Homo sapiens: one gene and its partners. The protein of the gene in region 7 purifies or fractionates together with the protein of the main gene of each other region. This does not show direct contact. Each region holds a gene or a part of one and is shown on either strand. Other genes may lie near its edges.

Region 1 (3,500 bases), on a different chromosome or scaffold from region 7:
TCCTCTAACTCGATCCTCTAAGGGGACGTTCTGGATGAAAGTATACTCTTCAGGTATTGGAAAATATGGCTTTTCCTTCTGACCAAAATTAAATTCAACTGCACAGTTGTGGCAGAGAACATGCGGGAACAGTGGCCGTCCAGCAAGAACTTCCTTACTGATTTTGAAGGCAACGCCAAGATCTTGTCCATTCTTAGCATACGAGAGTTCTACTTCATCACTTTCAAAGTTCTGTTACACAGAAAAAAATTCAACAGTTAAAATCTGCTTCCTTAAACTTTCTAAAAAACTAAGAATTAAAATTAGGAGCAAAGCTTATCCTGTGGAAGCTACAGGTTAAAGAACTATTAGGTGGCCTTTAAGGGCTACACAGTTAAGAAATCTGATGGTTGTAAACCATGAAGCACGTATCTCCAGAACCAGAAACAATACTGACCTAGAAGCTAGACTGAATTTTCTAGGTCAATTTCATGTTCACTGTTTTCAGTCAAAATGAATTAGTGAGTTCCTCAAAAATGTCCTGTGTTTTCCCAATTCAACTGCTGAATGAAGTCTTTACACTAATCCAGGGACTGGTGTATTTTGTTGCTCATATTGAAAACTGACCTCAGTAAAGCTTCTTTAAAGTTCCTAGATATAGCTACTAACTTTGCCATTTATACATAGAAAGTTAGCTTTAACTTACAGCAAAACATGTAATCACATCATTTTCATCAAACTTTTCTCCATAATCTTCAGTCTCACAGTTGCATGTTTTTATTCCTTTTAGAGAATACCCATAAGAAAATTCTTCTTCACCTAAGAAAATAATTAATCTTCATGAAGTAGATGTTTAAAATAGTCCAAAGACTCATCTATTTTACTACTTAAGATGTAGGCTACAAGAGAAATAAGCATATAACCTAATCACCTGTCACTGACACTATTACTTTTCTATCTCTGTACCAGAATTGATGGAAGTTAGGAGGGATATATACGCAGAGACCAAATTAGTTGACGATTTGCATATCACGGGTAAGATTTTATTTCAACCATTGGTCATAAACTTCTAATAAAGGAACAAAAACTAAAATGTAGCCTGTGCCTACTATGTGCTAATATTACCTGTCTGAAGTATTAACAGAATAGATAAAAACAGACAAAAGGCTTAGAATGCCCTCTAGTTAAAAAACACTGAAATCAGACCCTCCTGAACATTCATGAGCCCACATCAGTCAAAAAGAAGCTTTACCAAGTAACATTCCACTTGTAGTTAGTGACCAGCCAATACGAACTTCATGTATGTCAATATCTTTTGTATATAAATGCCTTACTGGGATCTTCTCTGTAACCTGAAAGTCAAATCATTAAATAATTAAAATAATACACCAAGGAGGTAACCCCTTAACTCTCGCATATTTCATTGCGCCACGGGCTAATCTTCCTCTAGCTATAAATACAAAGAAGGCACACTCTAGCCCACCCCCAATATTTGTAAGAACTTTAAACTGATGTGCTTATAACTTGAAATTTAAAGAGTTAAATACTTATTTGACCCATATTTAAAAGAATACTTAATATTTTTAAAGTTCATGTTGTCAGTCTTTAACTTAAAGCCAATTAAAGGATACAATTAATGTTTTTCTCACCAACAAAAGCAGTAATGTAACCAAATTTTATTTTTAACTCTTTGGTGGCCCTTTCAAATGCTTGATAAAAATGAAGTACCCTAAATAAAAAATCGCCTAGCTCTGCATGGCAAGTTCTAACATAACAACCGTGATTAACTGTCACAACAAAATGAAGGTTCCAAGCTCCTCTTTTAATTTACAGGAAGCTTCAAAAATAAGTACCTTTGATAACTTAGCAGTATGAAGCACCTGTAATTCCAGCATTCTGAGAGGCTCAGGCGGGCAGATCACTTGAGCTTAGGAGTTCAAGACCAGCCTGGGCAACATGGTGAGACCTTGTCACTATTTTAAAAAGGAAAAAAAAAGGCTGGGCACAGTGGCTCATGCCTGTAATCCCAGCACTTTGGGACGCCGAGACAGTGGATCACCTGAGGTCAAGAGTTGGCGACCAGCCTGGCCTACGTGGTGAAACCCCATCTCTATTAAAAATACAAAAATTAGCCAGGTGTGGTAGTGTGTGCCTCTAGTCCGAGCTACTTGAGAGACTGAAGCAAGGAGAATCGCTTGAACCCAGGACGCGGAGGTTGCAGTGAGCCTAGGTCGCACCACGGCAATCCAGCCTAGGGAACAGAGTGAGACTGTCTCCACAAACAAACAAACAAATCATAAAATTGCATTTACCTTCATCTCAAAACACACTTTGCCTTTTGACACACCATAGGATGCTCTTCCTCCAGCCCAAAGAAAAGCAAAACTCTCCATTGTAAGGGAAGAAGCACTGAGACGATCTCTTGATATTTTAAAATGTAGATCACAATTATCTGTAATTATATCAAATACTGTGTTACTTTTGACATCCAATGTAAACATATCTGCTATGTAGACAAAACTTGGTTACTTAATTTTTGCATGTACTTCTTAATGCTGCACAACTTTTCTCCACATCATGCTGTTGTTCCAATTTTCAGTTTAAAGCCCCACTCCCACCAAGTCACTCCTGTTAAATTATGTACTGAAAAGTAAACTGCCTGTGAAACTAATACCAAGGTTTAACATGTATATTTTAAGTATTTAAAATAATCAAGACAATGTGACATTAATACATACCTGCTCTGCTCTTTACCTTGATTTAGAGGCAAGCAGTAGAGGATAGCAGGAAATCAAAGTGAAGCATGCCAGAACCAGGTAGATTTACCAGTGCCACATTAAAACTGAAGGGAGGCCACGACCAAATTATTTTAAAATAGGAGTATGAGCTGCTGTTGATCCTGCACCAGGGCTCTAGCTCCTAAATTCTTTTTCTAAAACTTGTGAAGAAGACAGCCTAAAACTATGAAGTACAAACCTGGCCGTCTAATGCTGTTAATAGTGCAGCATTTTAGGTCCTCTTTACCCAGGACTGCCTGTTCAACAATTAGGGATTAATTGCTTCCCGGATTATCCAAATCCAAAGTGTCTTTAACCCAGCTACCTATGGGTCACTGGCTCATTAACATGCACTTCCTCAGACTTCTCACTTGAACAGCTAAAGTCAAGCTGGAACTCATTTTCTTTTTACTGATCAGAGAAAAATAAATCTACAGTTTGGAATTTTTCTTAAATTAGAGTTATTCTAATCAACAGAATTTAATTCAACAGATTGTTTGAATTCAACATTGTACTTATATTGACATATTCCTGATTTGCTAAAAAATCTAACAATTACATTACCTGTGTGAGTCACCACTTCACTACCTTGCCAATTCCTAGCAACTTATTTATACAACCCAGAATTTCACTAAAACTTTCACATCAACTAACTCCTTTTTCACCTGCAGTTTTTTCTTTTAAAAAGGCTCAGATGACTATCTCAACCTTCTGTAAAGGATATTCCAGTAAGAAAGAGTTTTA
Region 2 (3,500 bases), on a different chromosome or scaffold from region 7:
TATCCCAGTGATTGATAAAGATACACCAAAGCAGTGGCTTGGTACACTTACATTTGTAAAGAGAAAATTCAAAACAGAACAAAATACTTCTTACATGGACATCAGTTCTAAACTTTCTACATTCCACATTGTCATTTCCATATAAGAACCTATGGCAACGTATGAAAAGGTCTTCAATTCTGCAAGCTTTTTAAAAATGCAACTAACTTAATGCAAAGGCCCAGGTACTCTATAAAAATACACCTACCAACTGTTCTAACTCCAAATATTTCTTAAAAAACAAATGTGATAGTCAAGAACTTTAAAAATATTATTAATCACCTTTGTCATGATTCTCCCTCTTATATATATACAATAGTGGCAAGTTATTCTGAGTTGTAATATCTCCAATCTTCCTGTAGTGAAAACATTTACAAGATCTCATTGCTAATTCTCTCCTCTGTTAACTTAAAAGTGTTTCCACACTATTTCAACAAAGCAATGTTTAATCTTGTCCCAGGAGTGGCTATGGACAGGAACATTTTCCTAAATTAAAAGAGCAAGGAAAGCTGAGATGGAAAGACAGGTTGAGCCCAGGAGGTGAGAGAACCATGACTGCACCACTGCACTCATGCGGAACAGAGCAACACTGTCTCAAAAAAAAAGAAAACAGAAAAAAGTTTGCATTTCCCCTAAGTATGGTTAATCTCTTAGTTTAATCCATTCATGGGAATTAATGCAAAGAAAAAGATACTGAGTAACTTTTTATTATCACTACTTTCCCATTTTGACATAAAGCTTTTGGTCTTTTTGACCAAAATCTTGCAAAGTATAATGATACAGAAACTATAAAATATCAGTGTTCAGAAACTCATATCCTTTGTGAGAGATGGTAACACTTGCACAAACACAAATTGCTTAACGACAATTTCTGGAGGTGAATCAAAATAAGTTATCCATATCCATGAGCATTAAACTGAGCTTAAGCCTCAGTCCAATGGAAATAAATATCTAATCTACCTCCTAAGCCACAAACCTTCACCGGCACCCGTATCTAAACCAATGAGCTAGCTAGCTAGTTCTGTACTATCACTGGAATTTCTTTTTAAAACCTACTATTTCGTCTGACCACAGCCAAAATAAAGCAAGTAATACAGTTTTGTTTTGAATCTATGTAACAGTCTCATGAACACAATTAGGAGTCAAATTCTCTACTTTTCTGAAGAAAAATATTTCAAAATATTTCAGCCAGTTAAGGCTTTTAGTTACACAGAATGCTGCTCAGGCAGAAATGGACTCTCATTCACATCTGAGGAAGTAGTCCTTGCCTCGAAAAATGTTGAGGACGGTAAGTGTGAAAATAGAAAAAAAACATACATAGTGTGACAACCTTTAAGTTAAAAGGGATATATATTAAGAAGCTCAGTATGACTACTTCAAGCACCAGCTAAAAATTAAGCGGAAATTCTCACTATGAGAAAGCTATACAATAGATGAGGCAACAATAGCTGATTACTTACTGATTAAGGCTAGGCTGTTTAAAATCTTTTACCAGGGGAACAAGGACTAAACCCTAGGAGAATTGTAACTGCACCCATAATCAAACTTGATGGTGTTGGTATAAAATCTAGTCAGATTAAGAAATTAAAACACTCTAGAGACATTAATCACCTGAACAGATTAAGACAAAATACACCAGCCAGGTGTGGAGGCTCATGCCTGTAATCCCAACATTTTGGGAGGCGGAGGCAGGTGGATCATGAGGTTACGAGTTGAGACCAGCCTGACCAACATGGGGAAACCCCGTGTATACTAAAAATACAAAAATTAGCCGGGCATGGTGGCACACGCCTGTAATTCCAGCTACTCAGGAGGGCTGAGGCAGAAGAATTGCTTGAATCTGGAAGGCAGAGGTTGCAGTGAGCTGAGATCATTCCACTGTACTCCAGCCTCAGTGACAGAGCAAGACTCCGTCTTAAAAAAAAAAAAAAGAAAGGAAGAAAGAAAGAAAAGGAAAAGAAAAAGAAAAAAAAAACAACAAAACACACCAGCTGGATGCAGTGGCACACCTGTAATCCCAGCTACGCAGGAGGCTGAGGCACGAGAGTTGCTTGAACCCAGGAAGGAAGTGGGGGTTGCAGACAGCCATTGCACTCCAGCCTGGGCGACAGAGTAAAAACTTTTGTCTCCTCCACCACCAAAAAAAAAAAAAAAAAAAAAGACAAAGAATGTCTACCCCAATTCCAAAGTAAAAGCATTACAAGACATGTACTAAGAAGAGGTTTTCAAAGGGAAGCTTCTTAAATGGAAATTCTGACCATAAGACATTAGCTGCAAACAGTGACATTTCCTGGGTCTCAAAAAACCTAGTAATACATGTCAACACTACACCAGAGTAGACGTTAATCTATTAATAATAAAGCTATCATTTGGTACATGGACCATTTAATGGACCACAGCTGATTCTCATCTTAAAAATGTGAACAGATTGAAATAATCTGTTTTGCCGGACAGGGTGGCTCACACCTGTAATCCCAGCACTTTGGGAGGCTAAGGCGAGCGGCTCATTTGAGGCCAGGACATGGAGACGGGCCTGACCAACATGGTGAAACCCAGTGTCTACTAAAAATAGAAAAAATTATCCAGGTGTGGTGGCACATTCCTATAATCTCAGGTACTCCGGGGGCTGAGGGACAACAATCGCTTGAACCTAACAGGCGGAGTTCATAATGAGTCAAGATCCCACCACTGCACTCCGGCATGGATCACAGAGTAAGACTCCGTCACAAAACAAAAATTAAGAGAACCAAAGGAGCAGTTTTTTCCATTCTATCTCCAGTAAATACTAGTTAAATGAACTACCAACTGATGACAGACATCTGCCTCAAACTTAACTATGTAGATAAAAAAACTGATATAAAAAAGTTTAACACAGGTTTACATTAAAATTTAAATAACAATATGTCAAATTGTGACCGAAAACAATAAATCCGTTAAACTAGCTAGCTAGCTAGTTCCGTACTATCACTGGAATTTCCTTTTAAAACCTACTATTTCATCTGACCATAGCCAAAATGAAGCAAGTAATAGTTCTGTTTTGAATCTATGTTAACAGTCCCATGAACACAATTAGGAGTCAAATTCTCTACTTTTCTGAAGAAAAATATTTCAAAATATTTCAGCCGGTGGGGCTTTTAGTTACAAAGAATGCTGCTCAGGCAGAAATGGACTCTCATTCACATCTGAGGAAGTAGTCCTTGCCTCAAAATGTTCGTAACATAGTTGGAATTCTTGATTTTGTGCTTAAAAATAAATCAACCAGCAAAATTTTTGTAGCTTGTGTTTTATTTCTAAACTGAAATCAATGATTTCTAATGTTATTTGCAAGTACTTCACCACAAACATGCTGTCTTAGTCTAGCATCAGTTTACCCGGATACTATCAACTGCAAGCACCACTCATTTAAAATATAAAACGACTAAATGGTAAACCAGTATGCTCATTTGCTCACCACTGGAGCT
Region 3 (3,500 bases), on a different chromosome or scaffold from region 7:
TGTGCAGTGCTTTTTCCTGGACCCTCTTGTCATCCCTCTCCCACTCCCCTGTGCCCTCCCCAGTCCCTACCTCTCATTTCTCTTGGCTTTGGTTCTTGTCTTGATTCTGATGACACCCACAGCTCTGTCTCCAGCCCAACATTTCTCTCCTGAGGAGTCTGGAGGCCCGTGTAGCAGCAGTCGGACCATTCCCCTGGATGCCTCCCTTACTTCCAGCACGTCAGCCCTGTGGCTCCTCCACTCAGCCTCCTGACATCTTTCTGATTCGCTCACTCATGATCCTGTTCCTTCCTCCACAGCCCCTGCCCTTGTCCAGCTCAGTCTTCAGCTGCATCAGTGATTTAAATCCTCCCTGATACACACAACACATGTATGTCACCTGTGACTTCTTTCCTCCCCAACCCAGCCACGCTGCTTAAAGTTGTCTCTATATTCTGTTTTCACGTATTTCCTGCTTGCCGCAGGCTTGCTCCCTCCACTCTTGGGAAACAAGTCTCACCAAGGTTTGCCCAGCGCTCCGCTTTCCTGTTTTCTTTCCATTTTTTTGAGACAGAGTCTTCACTCTGTCACCCAGGCTGGAGTGCAATGGCTGATCTCGGCTCACTGCAACCTCTGCCTCATGGGTTCAAGCGATTCTTGTGCCTCTGCTTCCTGAGTAGCAGGGATTACAGGTGCCCACCACCATGCCCAGCTGATTTTTGTATTTTTAATAGAGAGAGGGTTTCACCATGTTGGCCAGGCTGGTCTTGAATTTGTGGCCTCAAGTGATCTGCCCACCTCGGCCTCCCAAAGTGCTGGATTACAGGCATGAGCCATGGTGCCCAGCCAGCTTTCCTGTTTTCTTTGCCCATATTATTGTTGATCCTGACTGTCTCCCACATCAGACTGGGTGCTCCCTGAGGGCAGGAGCTGGACTGGATTCATCCTATGGATCCTCAGCATTGCCTGACTTAGGGCCTCTCAGAGATTTAGTGTTTTTTTTTCTTTTTTTTTTTTTAGAGTTTTGCTCTTGTTGCCCAGACTGGAGTGCAATGGCACGATCTTGGCTCACCGCAACCTCTGCCTCCCAGGTTCAAGCTATTCTCCTGCCTCAGCCTCCCGAGTAGCTGGGATTACAGGCATGTGCCACAATGGCTGATTTTGTATTTTTAGTAGAGACGGGGTTTCTCCCAGTTGGTCAGGCTGGTCTTGAAATCCCGACCTCAGGTGATCCACCTGCCACAGCCTCCCAAAGTGCTGGGATTACAGGCGCAAGCCACCGCGCCCGGCCTAAGATTTAGAGTTATTAAAGAGTGGTTGGGTGAACGCATGAATGCATGAGAGAGTGAATGAATGAGTAAACAAATTAGCAAATGTATTAACGATTTAAAGAATTGAGTGGATCAATAAGTCAGGCCTCAGGGCCTTTGCAGTAGTTGTTGCCTCTGCCTGGAATTCTCTTTTCCAAGAGACCTCATGGCTTAATCCCTCACCACCTGAGGTCTCTAATCAAATGTCACTTTTTTGGCAAAGCCTTCTCTGAGCCTTCCATTTAAAATTGCAGCCTTGGCCAGGCATGGTGGTTTACACTGTAATCTCAGCACTTTGGAAGCCTGAGGCAGGAGGATCACTTGAGGCCAGGAGTTCAAGACCAGCCTGGGCAACACAGCAAGACCCTGTCTCTACCAAAAAAAATTAAAATTAGGCCGGGTCCAGTGGTGCACGCCTGTAATTCCAGCACTTTGGAAGATCGAGGTGGGAGGATTGCCTGAGCTCAAGAGATTGAGACCACCCTGGGCAACCTAGTGAGACCTTGTCTTTACTGAAACTTTTTTTTTTTTTTTTTAATTTAAAGATTGGCAGGGTGCAGGCCAGGCGCAGTGGCTCACGCCTGTAATCCCAGCACTTTGGGAGGCCGAGGCGGGTGGATCACGAGGTCAGGAGTTCGAGACCAGCACAGCCAAGATGGTGAAACCCTGTCTGTACTAAAAATACAAAAATTAGCCGGGCATGGTGGCAGGTACCTGTAATCCCAGCTGCTCGGGAGGCTGAGGCAGAGAATTGCTTGAACCTGAGGCGGAGGTTGCAGTGAATCAAGATTGCTCCACTGCACTCCAGCCTGGGCGAAAGAGCGAGACTCCGTCTCAAAAAAAAAAAAAAAAAAAAAAAGATTGGCAGGGTGCAGTGGCACACACCTGTAATCCCAGCACTTTGGGAGGCCGAAGGGGAGTGGATCACCTGAGGTCAGGAGTTGGAGACCAGCCTAGCCAACATAGCGAAACCCTGTCTCTACTAAAAATACAAAAATTAACCAGGCATTTGGCTTGTACCTGTAATCCCAGCTAGTTGGGAGGCTGAGGCACCAACCACAATAACTTGAACCCAGGAGGCGGCAGTTGCAGTGGGCAGATCTCACGCCATTGCACTCCAGCCTGGGCAACAAGAGCAAAACTCCATCTCAAAAAAAAAAAAGAAAAAAAAATTTAAAGATTAACTGAGTATGGTTGTGCATGCCTGTAGTCCTGGCTGCTCAGGAGGCTGAGGTGGGAGGATTGCTTGAGCCCAGGAGTTCAGGGTTACAGTGAACCATGGTTGTGCCATTGCACTCCAGCCTGGCAATGGAGCAAGGCCTTATCTCTTAAAAAATAAAAATAAAAATAGGCCAGTCACAGTGGCTTACACCTTTAATGCCCAGCACTTTGGGAGGCCAAGGCAGGAGGATTGCTGGAGCCCTGGAGTTCGAGACCAGCCTGAGTAACATGTCAATACCCTGTCTCTACAAAAAATTTAAAAATTACACAGGCATGGTGGTATATGCCTGTGGTCCTAGCTACACGGGAGGCTGAGATGGGAGGATCGCTCAAGCCCAGGCGGTCAAGGCTGCAGTGAGCTGTGATTGCGCCCTGCACTCCAGCCTGGGTGACCGAGCAAGACCCTGTCTCGAAAATAAAATAAAATTGCAGCCTCCTCCACCTCTTCCCTCCTCCTTCCCTGTTTATTTTTCCGCATAACTCCAGGAAACACCTAACACATTATGTTTTCGGTAATTATGTTGCTAATTGTTTGTGTCCCCTACTGAAATGTCAACTTTTGCTCACTGTGGTTTCTCTAGTGCCCAGAACAGTGCCCAGAATATAGTCAGTGCCCAGTAAATGTGAGCTGAGTGAGTGACTAAGCCCCCAGTCCCTTCCCACACTCCCATCTCTGAACTAACCAATCTCTCCTTTCCTCAGGCTGCATAGAGCCTGGACCTGGGCACTGGGGTGAGCTGAGCCGGACACCAGTCCCATCTAAACCCCAGGACAAAGTGGAAGCAGCTGAGGCAACACCAGTGGCCCTGGACAGTGACACCTCCGGGGCTGAAAATGCAGCAGTGAGTGCTATGCTGCACGCTGTAGCCGCCAGCCGCCTGCCTGTTTGCAGCCAGCAGCAGGGTGAACCCGACTTGACAGAGCATGAGAAAGTGGCCATCCTGGCCCAGCTGTACCACGAGAAGCCACTGGTGTTCCTGGAGCGCTTCC
Region 4 (3,500 bases), on a different chromosome or scaffold from region 7:
CCCTTAACTGCCTTGTCCCTCCTCCCTAGAAAACCCAATCCTCAATCCCACCATCCACTGCTTCAGGGCATTAATCCCACCATCCCCCTCCTCAGCTCCTGAATCCCACCATCCCCCTCCTCAGCAGCTCCTGAATCCCACCATCCCCCTCTTCAGCAGCTCATGAATCCCACCATCCCCCTCCTCAGCTCATGAATCCCACCATCCCCCTCCTCAGCTCATGAATCCCACCATCCCCCTCCTCAGCTCATGAATCCCACCATCCCCCTCCTCAGCAGCTCATGAATCCCACCATCCCCCTCCTCAGCAGCTCATGAATCCCACCATCCCCCTCCTCAGCAGCTCATGAATCCCACCATCCCCCTCCTCAGCTCATGAATCCCACCATCCCCCTCCTCAGCAGCTCCTGAATCCCACCATCCCCCTCCTCAGCAGCTCATGAATCCCACCATCCCCCTCCTCAGCTCATGAATCCCACCATCCCCCTCCTCAGCTCATGAATCCCACCATCCCCCTCCTCAGCAGCTCATGAATCCCACCATCCCCCTCCTCAGCTTCTGAATCCCACCATCCCCCTCCTCAGCAGCTCATGAATCCCATCCCCCTCCTCAGCAGCTCATGAATCCCACCATCCCCCTCCTCAGCTCATGAATCCCACCATCCCCCTCCTCAGCTCCTGAATCCCACCACCCCCCTCCTCAGCACCTCATGAATCCCACCATCCCCCTCCTCAGCAGCTCATGAATCCCACCATCCCCCTCCTCAGCTCATGAATCCCACCATCCCCCTCCTCAGCTCATGAATCCCACCATCCCCCTCCTCAGCTCCTGAATCCCACCATCCCCCTCCTCAGCAGCTCATGAATCCCACCATCCCCCTCCTCAGCTCATGAATCCCACCATCCCCCTCCTCAGCTCATGAATCCCACCATCCCCCTCCCTCAGCAGCTCATGAATTCCACCATCCCCCTCCTCAGCTCATGAATCCCACCATCCACACTGCCACTGGCAGGCCTGCTCTTCTCCCAGGGTGTATCTGCTCTCCACTCTCCAGAACAGCATCTCCCATCTCTTTGCACCACCACCTCTGCCACCTCTTCACTGGAAAAACACCAGAACAATCGGCCATGGGCTGCCTTGACTTCCCCTAAACAAGGTCACCCACAGCTGCTGTGCCCTCCCCACCTTCCCTCCTGAAATAAATGATGACACGAGCTGGCTTCACTCAAGCCCACCCTCCACTTGCACTCTAGGCCCCAGCACCGCCTGCCGAGATCTTTTTCTTCTTCCGTCATAAATGTGTCTCCCACATACTCTAGAATCTCCGGTAGTCAGAAAAGGCTCCTTTGCGGGTGGGAAACTTGATTGGATGCTGCTTACAACAAAAAACTAAAAAGACATTTTGGGGGATAACTGGAAAATGTTGGCATGCGAGCTGCTGTTTTACAGCATTTATGGGCTTGTTAGGGCAGTGTGGCTATGCGGGAGAAGGCCCTGATTTCGCCAGATGCCTACTGAAGTCGTTAAGGATGCAGTGTCATGATATCTGCAACTCCCAGTGGTCAGGAAAAAAAGAAGAGAAAGAAAAGAACTGTAACAATGTTTATAATTACTGACTCTAGAGGACAAAGGTGTTCACTGTGATAGGCTTTCCACTTTTTTGCCTGCACAGTGTGTGGGGTGTGGCTCATATGTTTAAAAAACCTTCTAGGTGGCCGGGTGTGGTGGTTCATGCCTCTAATTCCAGCACTTTGGGAGGCTGAGGAGGGTGGATCACAAGGTGAGGAGTTTGAGACCAGCCTGACCAACACGGTGAAACCCTGTTTCTTCTAAAAAATACAAAAATCAGCTGGGCGTGGTGGCATGCACCTGTAGTTCCAGCTACTCAGGAGGCTGAGGCAGGAGAATTGCTTGAGCCCGGGACATGGAGGTTGCAGTGAGCCGAGATCGCGCCACTGCACTCCAGCCTGGTGACAGAGCGAGACTCCGTCTCAAACAACAACAAAAACTTTCTAGGCTACACCAGGCCTGGTGGCTCATGCCTGTAACCCCAGCACTTTGGGAGGTGGAGGCGAGAGGATCGTTTGAGCTCAGGAATTTGAGACCAGCCCGGGCAACACACTGAGACCCACAGGCGCACGCCTGTAGTCTCAGCTACTTGAGAGCCTGAGGCAGGAGGATCCCTTGAGCCCAGGAGTTCAAGGCTGCAGTGAACTATGATTGCACTACTGCACTCCAGCCTGGGCAACCGAGCGAGACCTTGTTTCTTAAAACAACAACAAAAACAACCTCCTAGGTGAGTCTAATGTGCAGGCAGGCTGAGATCCACGGGGCTAGAAACCCTTATGTTCATTTCAGTCATAAAACAGCCCTGTCAGCCTATTGCTCCATTTCTCTGTTCCTTTTTAGCCGGGCAAACTATGTCCCAACACCTGTTCTTAGAAATAAAGTATTACTGGAACCCAGCCACGCCCACTCACTTACAGACTGTCTTGGCTGTTTTCCCTATAACAGCACAGCATTCAAGGTGCCTAACAGAGACCATATGCCCTTAAACCTCAAATACGTCCTCTCCAGCCCTTCAACAGTAAGCCTGGCCTCCGTCCCGGGTTCAGCCCTCACTTTTTCAACTCCCCTGTCCTCCGGGTCCTGAATCCACTGCAACTGTCCCCACTTTGCCTCCCAGTAGTATCAGAAGCTTCCCTCCCTTGCTCCCTCTCCTGGACACGCTTTCTTGGCTTCTTCCTAGGTGAGAAGTGTGGGGTAGGGCTAAAAGTGTGGCCTCTGGAATGATGGAGATGACAGAACCTTCCTCATAGGGTGTTGCTGGGAGGATGGAATGAATCAACAAACACAGAACATGTGAGCAGTGCCCGGCCCACTGTGCCTCTGGGGCAGCGACGACCATGGGGTCAAGGCTCCCCCTGCGTTGGCCCCCTACCTCTCCATCTCAGCTCACGCCACCCCTCACTCTCTGCTCTGCTCCAGCCTCCCTGGCCCTCAGGCACTCTAAGGTCACTTCTCCTGAGACACCTGCTGGTTGGTCTACTGCCTAAATGCCAGCCTGTCCACCTGCTGCCACCCCTAACCCCCCGCAAGGCTGGCTCCTCTGTGTGACTCAAGTCTCAGATGAACTAGTACCTTGGAAAGGTCTTCCCTGCACTCTCCCATCTAAGATCCCAACCCCCGGCACGTTATCTTGGTTTACTGAGTGCCCAGCTCCCACCACCATCAGAAATTACCGTTCCTGCATTAACAGTCACTGCTGCTCCCCACGCTCTCCCCCACACACTCTAGAAAGCCAGCTCCATGAGCCCAGGGCCCCATGGCTATCCTGTTCACCAATGACCTTCTCAGCCCAAGAACAATGCACTACTCACAGCAGGCATTCAACAAACATGCACAGAAGAGAGAGGCAAGGAAAGGATCCCCTACTAAAGCAGGCATCTAAAAATTTTTGCAAAACATGACTTTAAACAGAATAGAGGGCTGGGCACGGTG
Region 5 (3,500 bases), on a different chromosome or scaffold from region 7:
ACTCAATGTCCCAAAATACTAGGATTACAGGCATGAGCCACTATGCTTGTCCATTCTTTTTTCTATATAAAATTTTTATAATAAACCAGCTAAAAAAAAAAGAACTTTCATAGGTAATTCAGATACTCACAGTTAAAAACCATGACATATTGTCAATTGACAGAAACCAACTAGTTGGAACCCAGGGAACTATGTCGGGGAATGAGAACAAATGGGAATCTAACGCTCCGTTCAGCATTACTGGAACCATTATGCTGGGTTCTAATTCCAACTTCAATCACCTACTAGCTATGAGACCTCGAGCAAATCACTTAACCTATCTCTGCCTCCGCTTCCTGCTCTGTAAATGAGATAATACTATGTACCTATATCTAATTGGGCTGATATAAGAATGAAACAAACAATGCAAGTAAAGAAATTAGCAGACTAACACACGCTGACAATAGTTAGCATATAGTGAGGATACATTATGTGCCAAGAGTTACTCTAAATGCCTTCTGTGTAATACATCATTTAAATTCTTACAACAAACTCATGGGATAGACACCATTATTACATTTTACAAACGGGGTAACAGACACGGAAAGGTTAAATGTAACTTGCTCAAGTTTACACTGCTTGTTAAGTGGTACAGTCAAGATTTAAACTAGTTGTATAGCTCCAATATGCACACTCTTAACTATCAGTCCATATTAATGATTTATTAAGAATTCTTAACTCTTATTATTTATGTAGCTACATAAAAAATTGTTTTGACTATGAACTTAAATGCTTATTAATATGGGAATGATTAGTAATGCATATTAGAAAATTTGAAATTTTAGAAAAAGGAAAAAGCTAAATATAAGTATAGAGTAGAGCTTAGGAAGGAAAAAAAAAAGCTATAAAGTTATATAATGGGATATGATTACGTAGACCAAGTTAAAAAACATCTTGGCTTAACTGTAGATCAGAAAATGACTATGAGTCAGCAATATGGGGAAAATTACTGTACTGAAGAAACAAGCACACCACTGGATATTAACAAGTATCTCATCAGAAGCTGAAAATTACATTCAGCTCTGGTCAGACCCTATTAAAATATGAAGTACATAAGACTATAAAGAAGCTAAGGAAAGTTTTTTTAAAAGACATGGAATATATAGAAAATCCAATTTGCAAAGGCAAATTATAGGGACTACGATTATTCAACTCAGAAAAAAAGGTAGCCAGGCACGGTGGCTCATGCCTGTAATCATGGCACTTTGAGAGGCTGAGGCCAGCAGATCGCTTGAGCCCAGAATTGAGACCAGCCTGGGCAACATGGCGAAACTCTGTCTCTACAAAAAATACAAAAATTATCTGAGCATGGTGATGCACACCTGTAGTCCCAGCTACTGGGGAGGTTGAGGAGGGAGGATTGCTTAAACTCAGGAGGCACAGGTTGCAGTGAGCCAAGATCACACCACTGTACTCCAGCCTAGGTGACAGAGTGAGACCCTGTCTCAAAAAATAATAATAATTTTTAAGAAAAAAAGGCTGGGGGGAGGGTTACTCAGCTGTCAAAACTGGAAGGATTTTTTTTTTAAGTTTACTTTAAAACTTTGTAGTTCCAGTTATTAAACCTACGAATGGGCAAGATTCAGAAGCTATAGATCTCCTTTCCTGGAGAACTTTCAAAAAGCACTCTTTATACCAGTTATCTCTTAGGTATTCATTTAAGTTGGCAAAAGATAAAATTACGGCCGGGTGCAGTGGCTCACACCGGTAATTCCTGCATTTTGGGGAGGCTGAAGCAGGTAGATCACTTGAGGTCAGGAGTTCGTCACCAGCCTGGCCAACATAGGGAAACTCTGTCTCTACCAAAATACAAAAATTAGCCGGGTGTGGTGGCATGCACTTGTAATACCAGCTACCTGGGAGGCTGAGGCAGGAGAACTGCTTGAACCCAGGAGGTGGAGGTTGCAGTGACCTGAGATCATGCCACTACACTCCAGCGTGGGCGACAAAGCAAGACTCTGTCTCGAAAAATAAGAATAAAAATAAAAGATAAAATTACAGACAAATGGAGTCTTAAAGATAAAAATGTGCTATGAATCATTTGATATGTTCCCTCCTAGAAGACAGGGGGTTTGGTAGTTACAACTCCATGCAAGCTCTATTATTCTACTTTATACTTATCCCTCTTAATTAAGGAGTTGCAGAGATTCTATTTGGATATAAAATTCATTCTATTCATAGGTAAGCTATGGTCATTAAATTATTTAAGATTTTATATATTATTATGAGCTTTTTTTTACAAAACAGTTACACAGCCTTAAAAAAAAGTTAAATTTTGGCCCAAACATATCAAGTCAATAATAGCAAGTGATAAAAGAATCATGTGCTTCATACATTTTCAAAAAGTTCAAACAGGGAAATAGTACTGTACCTGCCGAAACCTCTTTTTTATTTCTTCATCTGTAACTTCAGGATCTATCTGAAGAACCTGGAAGTATCAAAATCAAAACCATAAAAAAGGTGAAAATAAATTACATGTATATTTAAGAGTTGCTCAGTAATTATATATATTATAATCAGCATCTAGAATAGTACCCCATGTTCTAGAACACAGGCTGGCACACAGTTCTAGAAATTGCTAAAGAAATATGAATGATCAAATCAACAGAATAACAATTATATTGTCTTATGGTACTCAAATAACATAATGCTTATTTTCATCATAAAAATAATAATTTATTTTACACCCAGAGACATTTTTACATGAGAAAATTTTGCATTTCTCCTTCATTCATTAAAAGAGTTTAACTCCCCCTCCCTTTATTTTTGCAAATGTCGAGAAACCGTAATAACTCAAAAAAGAAAAAAATAGCCCAATGGACACTTTATAATTTACAAGGCCCAGTGGTTCTCAATCAGAGTGAATATTAGAATCACCTGTGGAAACCTGTGAGCAATGGCTGGCCCACTCTACGAAAGTCTGATTCCAACCCCATAGAGCAGGGGTAGGGCCAATAGGAGGAACAACTCTATTTTTTTTTTTTTTGAGATGGAGTCTCGCTCTTATTGCCCAGGCTGGAGTGCAATGGCGAGATCTCGGCTCACTGCAACCTCCACCTCCGCGGTTCAAGCGATTTTCCTGCCTAAGCCTCCTGAGTAGCTGGGATTACAGGCACGTGCCACCACACCTGGCTAATTTTGTAATTTTAGTAGACACAGGGTTTCTCCATGTTGGTCAGGCTGGTCTCAAACTCCAGACTTCAGGTGATCCGCCTGCCTCAGCCTCCCAAAGTGCTGGGATTACAGGTGTGAGCCACCGCGCCCAGCCTTAAGCAACACTTCTTTAAACAAATAATTTTTTTTTTTTTCGAGACAGTGTCTCACTTTGTTGCCCAGGCTGGAGTGCAGTGGCATAATCATAGGTCACTGCAGCCTCAAGCTCTGGGGCTCAAGTGGTCCTCTGGTCTCAGCCTCTTGAGCAACTAGGACTGTAAGTATGTGGAGCGCACAACCATGCCTGG
Region 6 (3,500 bases), on a different chromosome or scaffold from region 7:
CTAACAGCACCATCTCAGAAGTGAGGGCTATTTGACCACTCTCACCTTCTGGCAATTTTATATCCTCTTTCCCTGTATTATTTTTCCTCCACAGCAATTATTACCTTTTACTATACTACATGATTAATTTCTGTCTGTCTACACTCACCAGAATGTTGACTGTTATATCCCATCCCCCTACCCACTGTCTAGCAAAAACACTTTGTGTCTAAAAGAGAACCTTGCACACAGCAGATGCTCAATATGAACTAAATAAATGAAAGAATGAATAAATGTACCAGGTAAGAATTTAGTAATGAAAAAAAAATAACCACCCTCACAAAATTTCTTGAATTATACTTAGGACTCGACTTCCCACTCTAATTGAATTAATACACCAATGTAGACCACTAAGTAAAGTCAGAGAGAAAATACTGGCAGATTTAATGATGAGAAATGCATTGGAGCCTACAAGATAGAAAAACTCTGGATTACTTCACCATATGAGGGAGCTGAATTATTCTGTTAGATACCTAATTTCTCTTAAGTTTTGAGATTAAGATAAGAGAAAATCAAGCCTATCATTTGAGTAATAATGCAATTTTGAAAAGTACACTGCTCAGAAGTTTAAAAATTTCTGGTACAGTCCCAAACTGAAGACCCACTTTTTTCTTATCTCCTGTTGCTTCAGCTTACTAAGGCAGAGATTACTCTCCATTTCTACACTATATCTGATGTATCTAAATTTTGTTTATATGTACCTACTTTATATGCAGTAGGAAAAAGATTTTCTAAAATAAGATATATTTTGTTCACCAAGCAAAATTCAATTCAGTAATGAGAATGTCATACCTTTTTCCACATGAGTTTTGATCCCAGCTCTTCTCTCCCTGGCTTTCTGGGCCATTTCTCTAAGTTTCTCTTCATGTTTTTCCTTTTCTTTCTGAGCCATTTTTCTCTCTACTTGGGCACGCATTTCCACAGCTTCACGAGCCTGTTGGTAAAGTCACATGTTAAACAGGACACTATCATGGGATAAATATTTATGGCTATCATCCAACTCCCTAACATCTGGCTGGTAAGAGCAATTATACAGAATTCAGATTTGTTATTGCTAATTAAAACAAAGAGTCTTGTCCACTAAAAGATATCCTGCCTGGAAGACACTGCAAGGTCAGCTTTTTTCTCTGGGAATATTTTAGTGATTGAAACTATCGTGACCCCAATTAATCTTGTAAGTCAAGTATTTCACTAATGCTTTCTCAGAAACAATCTAAAGAACAAAATTAAAGCCAGGCATAGTGGCTCTCTCCTGCAATCCTAGCACTTTGGGAGGCCAGGGTGGAAGGACTGCTTGAGCTCAGGAGCTTGGGACCAGCCTAGGCAACATAGTGAGATCCATCTCAAAAAAATAACATTTTCAAAATTAATAACACTTTCAAAGTTAATCAAGTCAACTCAAGATAAAATCTTAACTTACATCTGCTAGATAATTTTTATAAGGGTACTCACTGTGATACAAAAGACATTTTTTTTATGTTCCAAACACATGCTATGATGCATGTGAACTTCAATATCACATATTAATTCCATAATATTTATATTTACATATATTTTTTGAGATGAAGTGTCTTACTCTGCTGCCCAGGCTGAAGTGCAGTGGTGCGTTCTTGGCTCACTGCAACCTCCACCTCCTGGGTTCGAGAGATTCTCCTGCCTCAGCCTCCCAAGTAGCTAGGATTACAGGTGCATGCCACATCCAGCTAATGTTTGTATTTTTAGTAGAGATGGAGTTTCACCACATTGGTCAGGCTGGTCTTGAACTCTCAACCTCAAGGAATCCACCAGTCTTGGCCTCCCAAAATGCTGGGATTATACACATGAGCCATTGTGCCCAGCCTAATTCCATAATATTTAATACATTATGTAACATTAATAGATGGCCAATGCTATGAACGCCATTTTATGTACTATTCAATTCATTAGAATGTTTATCTGCCTTTTCCTGCAACTGCCCTTTTGGGGGACATCTACATCTAAAATAGAGGAAAATTTGAAATCAAAAATTATGAAACCTAGCAATCTTCAAAAAATGGGATCATCCTAGGAAACCATTATTCTGACATGTTGTGAGGGAGCCGGATCACCACTGTGGGGTGTATGTACACATCTACAAAAGCTGGGAGCATGCAGAGAGCTGCCAACTAGCAGCTGCCATTTCTGACACACGTACCATGGGTGAGACTCTCTTTGGGTGCTCGGTACTATAGTTAAATTATCAGTACCTTAGGTAACCAAGAATGGATTTTAAAAGTAACAAGAGCATTAAACAAATTATAACAAACCAACCTTCCGATCAGCAATGTAGAGGGCTTCTGCCAATTTGGCGAAATTTTCATTTATGTGTACTGTCTGTAGTCCTCTTCCATCAGCAGCCAGACGTTTGTCTAATGGAATTGTATAACCCTAGAGTGAAAGCAGACAGAAAACCCAGTCACAGAAGTGCTTCAATTAATCGTCTGAAGTTAAATTAATTTTATTTTTTTCGAGCTGGAGTCTTGCTCTGTCACCCTGGCTGGAGGGCAGGGGTGCCATCTCGGCTCACTGCAACCTCTGCCTCCTGGGTTCAAGCGAGTCTCCTACCTCAGCCTCCCGAGTAGCTGGGACCATAGGCGTGCGCCACACACTCGGCTAGTTTTTCTATTTTTAGTAGAGACGGAGTTTCACCATGTTGGCCAGGATGGTTTTGAATTCCTGACCTTGAGTGATCCGCCCTTGGCCTCCCAAAGTGCTGGGATTACAGGCATGAGCCATCGAGCCTGGCTAAAATTAAATTTAAATATGCCCACATTTTGAGAACCACTTAACTGGAGGTTCTTTTTCCTTGCATCTTTCTTCACAATGATGCAAAACAACAGCAGCTATCAATGAGTGCTTTATGTAGAAGATCAAGCACTTACACCTATGGTCTCATTTAACCTTCACGATAACTCTATAAAGCTTCTAACATTATTGTGTCCATTTCACTGATGCTTTGGTAACATCCCCAAGGTCATACAGTTAGTAAGTGGGCGATTAGGATTTAAACTCAGCAGGATTTCAGAACCCAAGCTCTGGAAAAATAGATATTTGTGTTAATAATTGTCGATTTTAATAAAAGGAAATCACTGTCAAACAGTTCAACAGTTGCTCCTCAAGTAAATTTAACAGTCAAACAAAGGTAGAATCACTATAATCTTAGCATCTATAGGAAGTTAAATCTGCTGTACTGTCTTAATGATCTGTTATATTCTTAGAATCCTGAAGTTTTAGTAAATAGAAAAAAAAGGCTGGGTGCAGTAGCTCAAGCCTGTAATCCCAACACTTTGGGAGGCCAAGGCAGGTGGATTGCTTGAGCCCAGGAGTTCAAGACCAGCCTGGCAACATGGTGAAACCCCGTCTCTACCAAAAATACAAAAAAGTAGCCAGGCATGGTGGGGCACACTTGTGGTCCCAACTACTCGGGAGGCTGAGGTGGGAGG
Region 7 (3,500 bases):
TAACTTGAGCCCAGGAGTTCAAGGCTGCAGTGAGCTGTTATCATGCCACTGCACTCCTGCCTGCGTGTCAGAACGAGACTCTGTCTCTAAAAAAGAAATGTTGGAAACCTCCTCCTCTAAGGAAAATACAGAAATGGTGGCCAAGTCAAGGAAAGCCTTTCACCTCTACATGGTGCATCCCCTTAATAAAGGACCACAGGGCATTATGAAGACCATGGAGCAAAATGGAAAAATGCTTACAACACAGAGTGGAATATCTTTACTAGTATTACAAGGATCTAAAAAAAGGATTCCAAGGACAGAAGGAAACAGAAAAATGTGAAAACAGCTGGTAGACACTACTCTGGTAATGAGAATATGGTGATTCTTCACCCAACTCCCCTTTTCTGTATATTCTGTTTTTAAAGTATCAGGGGAAAAGGGGAGGCATGAACACTGCTAAGAGCCATTAAACATTTATCTTAAACACAACACTGTCTAAATCTGACATGACCCAATCAACATCATCACAATGTTCAATCAAGCACAGAGAAGCTTTCAACCTAATACTCAAAGGTAATCAAAGCCCTTGAAATGTAATGAGATGAATCTGCAGAGCTGACATAGTGAAAGTCTAACCAAAGTAGGCTGGTGCCGTGGCTCACGCCTGTAATCCCAGCACTTTGGGAGGCCCAGGTCGGGGGATCATTAAGTCAAGAGACTGAGACCAGCCTGGCCAACACGGTGAAACCACGTCTCTACTAAAAATACAAAAATTACCTGGGCGTGGTGGCGCACGCCTGTTGTCCCAGCTACTCGGGAGGCTGAGGCAGGAGAATCACTTGAACCCAGGAGGCAGAGGTTGCAGTGAGTTGAGACTGCACCACTGCACTCCAGCCTGGCAACAGAGTGAGACTCCATGTCATTTAAAAAAAAAAAAAAGAAAGTCTAACCAAAGTAATCTTTATGTCTAATTTTATTAGGTTGGGAAAGGAAGGACCATCCGTTAAATGATGCATACTGACTGAGACACTGCCTCAGGGGGGTGACGTGGTCCCTGGAGAACACATGCTGATTGGGCCTGCTTCCACACATGAAGGAACTGTCCAGAAATCCAGACTGATTGTGAAATCTCATTTTTACTTGTTTTGTTTTTTTTGAGACAGGGTCTCACTGTCACCCAGGCTAGAGTCCATGGCTCACTATAGCTTCAACCTTCTGGGCCCAACCGATCCTCTTGCCTCAGCCTCCTAAGTAGCTGGGATCACAGGCCCATGCCACCACAGCCAGATAACTTTTTATTTTTTGTAGACAGGGTCTCACTATGTTGCCCAGGCTAGTCTCAAATTCCTGAGTTCAAGTGATCTTCCCACCTTGGGCTCCCAAAGTGCTAGGATTACAAGCAAGAGCCACAGCACCTGACCTCCTCATTTTTAAATAGTAGCAACAAATTTGAGTTTCGAAAAAATTACTGTGAGGACAAACAAAACATCTGTAGGCTGGACATGGACTGAGGGCTGCCAAAGGAATACCTTAAATACCCTAGAGAATGTACTGACCTTTGGAGTCAAGGGGCCAGTAAAAAAATTCCATCTAAGGATGTGAGGGTAAGTACAGTGGGGAGAGACAGGGGGAACTCGGAGCAATTCCCATTCCATCTGAGGTGGCGGCTAGCACCTGCGTGGAACTGTGGGGAGAGACAGGAGGAACCCGGAGCAATTCCCATTCCATCTGAGGTGGCGGCTAGCACCTGCATGGAACTGTAGGAAGAGAGAGGATCTCTGACCAATGCCCATTCCATCTGAGAAGCCAGCTAGCACCTGCACAGGACTGTGGGGAGAGACAGGAGGAACTCAGAGCAATACCCATTCCATCTGAGGAGACGGCTAGCACCTGCATGGAACTGTGGGGAGAGAGAGGATCTCTGACCAATGCCCATTCCATCTGAGAAGCCAGCTAGCACCTGCACAGAACTGTGGGGAGAGACAGGAGGAACTCGGAACAATGCCCATTCTATCTGAGGTGGCGGCTAGCACCTGCATGGAACTGTGAGGAGAGACAGGAGGAACTCGGAGCAATGCCCATGCCATCTGAGGAGGTGACTAGCACCCGCGTGGAACTGAACTGCATGCAGCCCCATGACCTCACTCCCGCCTCACAACAACTCTGAGATGGCATTTTTTCCATTTTGCAGATGGGTCATTTGAGGCTCTTGGAATGTGGTCTTTGTACAATGAGAATAATAAACTCCCCTTTTTATCTTCCTCAGGCCAGCAGCTCAGGCACAGACACACACCATCTGTGATGAAGCAGCTTTCCAGGCATTTCCTCAGGCCAGTTTTAGAAGCAGAGGCTCCTGGTGACTGTGGGGCTAAGTGTGATTCTCACTTTGGCCACTGCTATGCTGTGTCAGGGACACCAGTCCTACCTATTGCCTACCCCAGTGCCATGTTGTGGTTTTTTATGAACTAAAAGGCCCAAGCCAACAACGTCTCTTTAAAAACCCTTGTGCTGATTCAGTGCTGAAGTCTCTTCATGCTGAAACCCACCTCTGACCCACCCAAGTAGCTCTGTTACCTGGCCACAAAGCTGGCAGTCTTGTCAACAATATTTCTGACCTCTGGAGGAGGGTAAATAATCCCCACAACTGGCTTAGAAGGTGCAGAATCCTCCTTTGAAGATGCTTCTTCTTCTGTGGGCTGTGCAAACAGGAAAAGAAATAAGGTTTTAAAGTCCCTGGTTCAGAGCAGGTTCTCCACTGTAAAACTCCTCTAGGATATCATTCAGAGTAGACTTTCATTCACAGACTTCCCTCAGGTTAGAACCCTCTACTTCAGAAAAGCAGTTCTCTTAAGTTCACTGCACCTGCAGGGGCTGCTCCTGGGGACCCAGGGAGAAGAGCAGCTTCCCTGGCTCCTCTCTCACTGGACTATCTCAGTGAGACCAGGAATCTGCATTTTTACTATGGTATGAGACCAGCACTTCTCCTGTTGTCCTTCCCAGTTTCTCCCCAACCTCCCCTTTTCCCTAGTTTATAAGACAGGAGAAAAGGGAGAAAGCAAAAAGTTGGAAAGAAACAGAAGTAAGATAAATAGCTAGACGACCTTGGTGCCACCACCTGGCCCTGGTGGTTAAAATAATAATAATATTAACCCCTGACCAAAACTACTGGTGTTATCTGTAAATTCCAGACATTGTATGAGAAAGCACTGTAAAACTTTTTGTTCTGTTAGCTGATGTATGTAGCCCCCAGTCACGTTCCTCACGCTTACTTGATCTATTATGACTCTTTCACATAGACCTTTAGAGTTGTAAGCCCTTTAAAGGGCTAGGAATTTCTTTTTCGGGGAGCTCGGCTCTTAAGACACGAGTCTGCCGACGCTCCCGGATGAATAAAAAACCTCTTCCTTCTTTAATCCGGTGTCTGAGGAGTTTTGTCTGCGACTCGTCCTGCTACATTACCAAATGCCCAGGTGATTCAGATGCAGGGACTCCGACTACATTCTGAGAAACCATGTTCC

Evidence for each region.
Region 1: the proteins of SF3A1 (region 7) and HNRNPU purify together in Homo sapiens (affinity purification with mass spectrometry; 3 studies listed by BioGRID and IntAct, with this or other methods). This does not show direct contact.
Region 2: the proteins of SF3A1 (region 7) and HNRNPC fractionate together in Homo sapiens (co-fractionation; 3 studies listed by BioGRID and IntAct, with this or other methods). This does not show direct contact.
Region 3: the proteins of SF3A1 (region 7) and CCDC97 purify together in Homo sapiens (affinity purification with mass spectrometry; 3 studies listed by BioGRID and IntAct, with this or other methods). This does not show direct contact.
Region 4: the proteins of SF3A1 (region 7) and SART1 fractionate together in Homo sapiens (co-fractionation; 3 studies listed by BioGRID and IntAct, with this or other methods). This does not show direct contact.
Region 5: the proteins of SF3A1 (region 7) and DNAJC8 purify together in Homo sapiens (affinity purification with mass spectrometry; 4 studies listed by BioGRID and IntAct, with this or other methods). This does not show direct contact.
Region 6: the proteins of SF3A1 (region 7) and SNW1 purify together in Homo sapiens (affinity purification with mass spectrometry; 3 studies listed by BioGRID and IntAct, with this or other methods). This does not show direct contact.

Annotation. Positions count from the first base shown.
Region 1 is NC_000001.11:244,858,044-244,861,543, forward strand, and holds part of HNRNPU (heterogeneous nuclear ribonucleoprotein U), read right to left. Parts: intron 2,432-3,500; coding exon 2,292-2,431; intron 1,332-2,291; coding exon 1,232-1,331; intron 799-1,231; coding exon 686-798; intron 232-685; coding exon 1-231. UniProt on the Homo sapiens protein: DNA- and RNA-binding protein involved in several cellular processes such as nuclear chromatin organization, telomere-length regulation, transcription, mRNA alternative splicing and stability, Xist-mediated transcriptional silencing and mitotic cell progression.
Region 2 is NC_000014.9:21,213,943-21,217,442, forward strand, and holds part of HNRNPC (heterogeneous nuclear ribonucleoproteins C1/C2), read right to left. Parts: intron 1-3,500. UniProt on the Homo sapiens protein: Binds pre-mRNA and nucleates the assembly of 40S hnRNP particles. Interacts with poly-U tracts in the 3'-UTR or 5'-UTR of mRNA and modulates the stability and the level of translation of bound mRNA molecules. Single HNRNPC tetramers bind 230-240 nucleotides.
Region 3 is NC_000019.10:41,313,172-41,316,671, forward strand, and holds part of CCDC97 (coiled-coil domain-containing protein 97), read left to right. Parts: intron 1-3,212; coding exon 3,213-3,500. UniProt on the Homo sapiens protein: May play a role pre-mRNA splicing through the association with the splicing factor SF3B complex which is involved in branch-site recognition.
Region 4 is NC_000011.10:65,968,234-65,971,733, reverse strand, and holds part of SART1 (U4/U6.U5 tri-snRNP-associated protein 1), read right to left. Parts: intron 1-3,500. UniProt on the Homo sapiens protein: Plays a role in mRNA splicing as a component of the U4/U6-U5 tri-snRNP, one of the building blocks of the spliceosome. May also bind to DNA.
Region 5 is NC_000001.11:28,212,530-28,216,029, forward strand, and holds part of DNAJC8 (dnaJ homolog subfamily C member 8), read right to left. Parts: intron 2,468-3,500; coding exon 2,411-2,467; intron 1-2,410. UniProt on the Homo sapiens protein: Suppresses polyglutamine (polyQ) aggregation of ATXN3 in neuronal cells.
Region 6 is NC_000014.9:77,730,157-77,733,656, forward strand, and holds part of SNW1 (SNW domain-containing protein 1), read right to left. Parts: intron 2,446-3,500; coding exon 2,329-2,445; intron 974-2,328; coding exon 832-973; intron 1-831. UniProt on the Homo sapiens protein: Involved in pre-mRNA splicing as component of the spliceosome. As a component of the minor spliceosome, involved in the splicing of U12-type introns in pre-mRNAs.
Region 7 is NC_000022.11:30,350,395-30,353,894, forward strand, and holds part of SF3A1 (splicing factor 3A subunit 1), read right to left. Parts: intron 2,679-3,500; coding exon 2,557-2,678; intron 1-2,556. UniProt on the Homo sapiens protein: Component of the 17S U2 SnRNP complex of the spliceosome, a large ribonucleoprotein complex that removes introns from transcribed pre-mRNAs.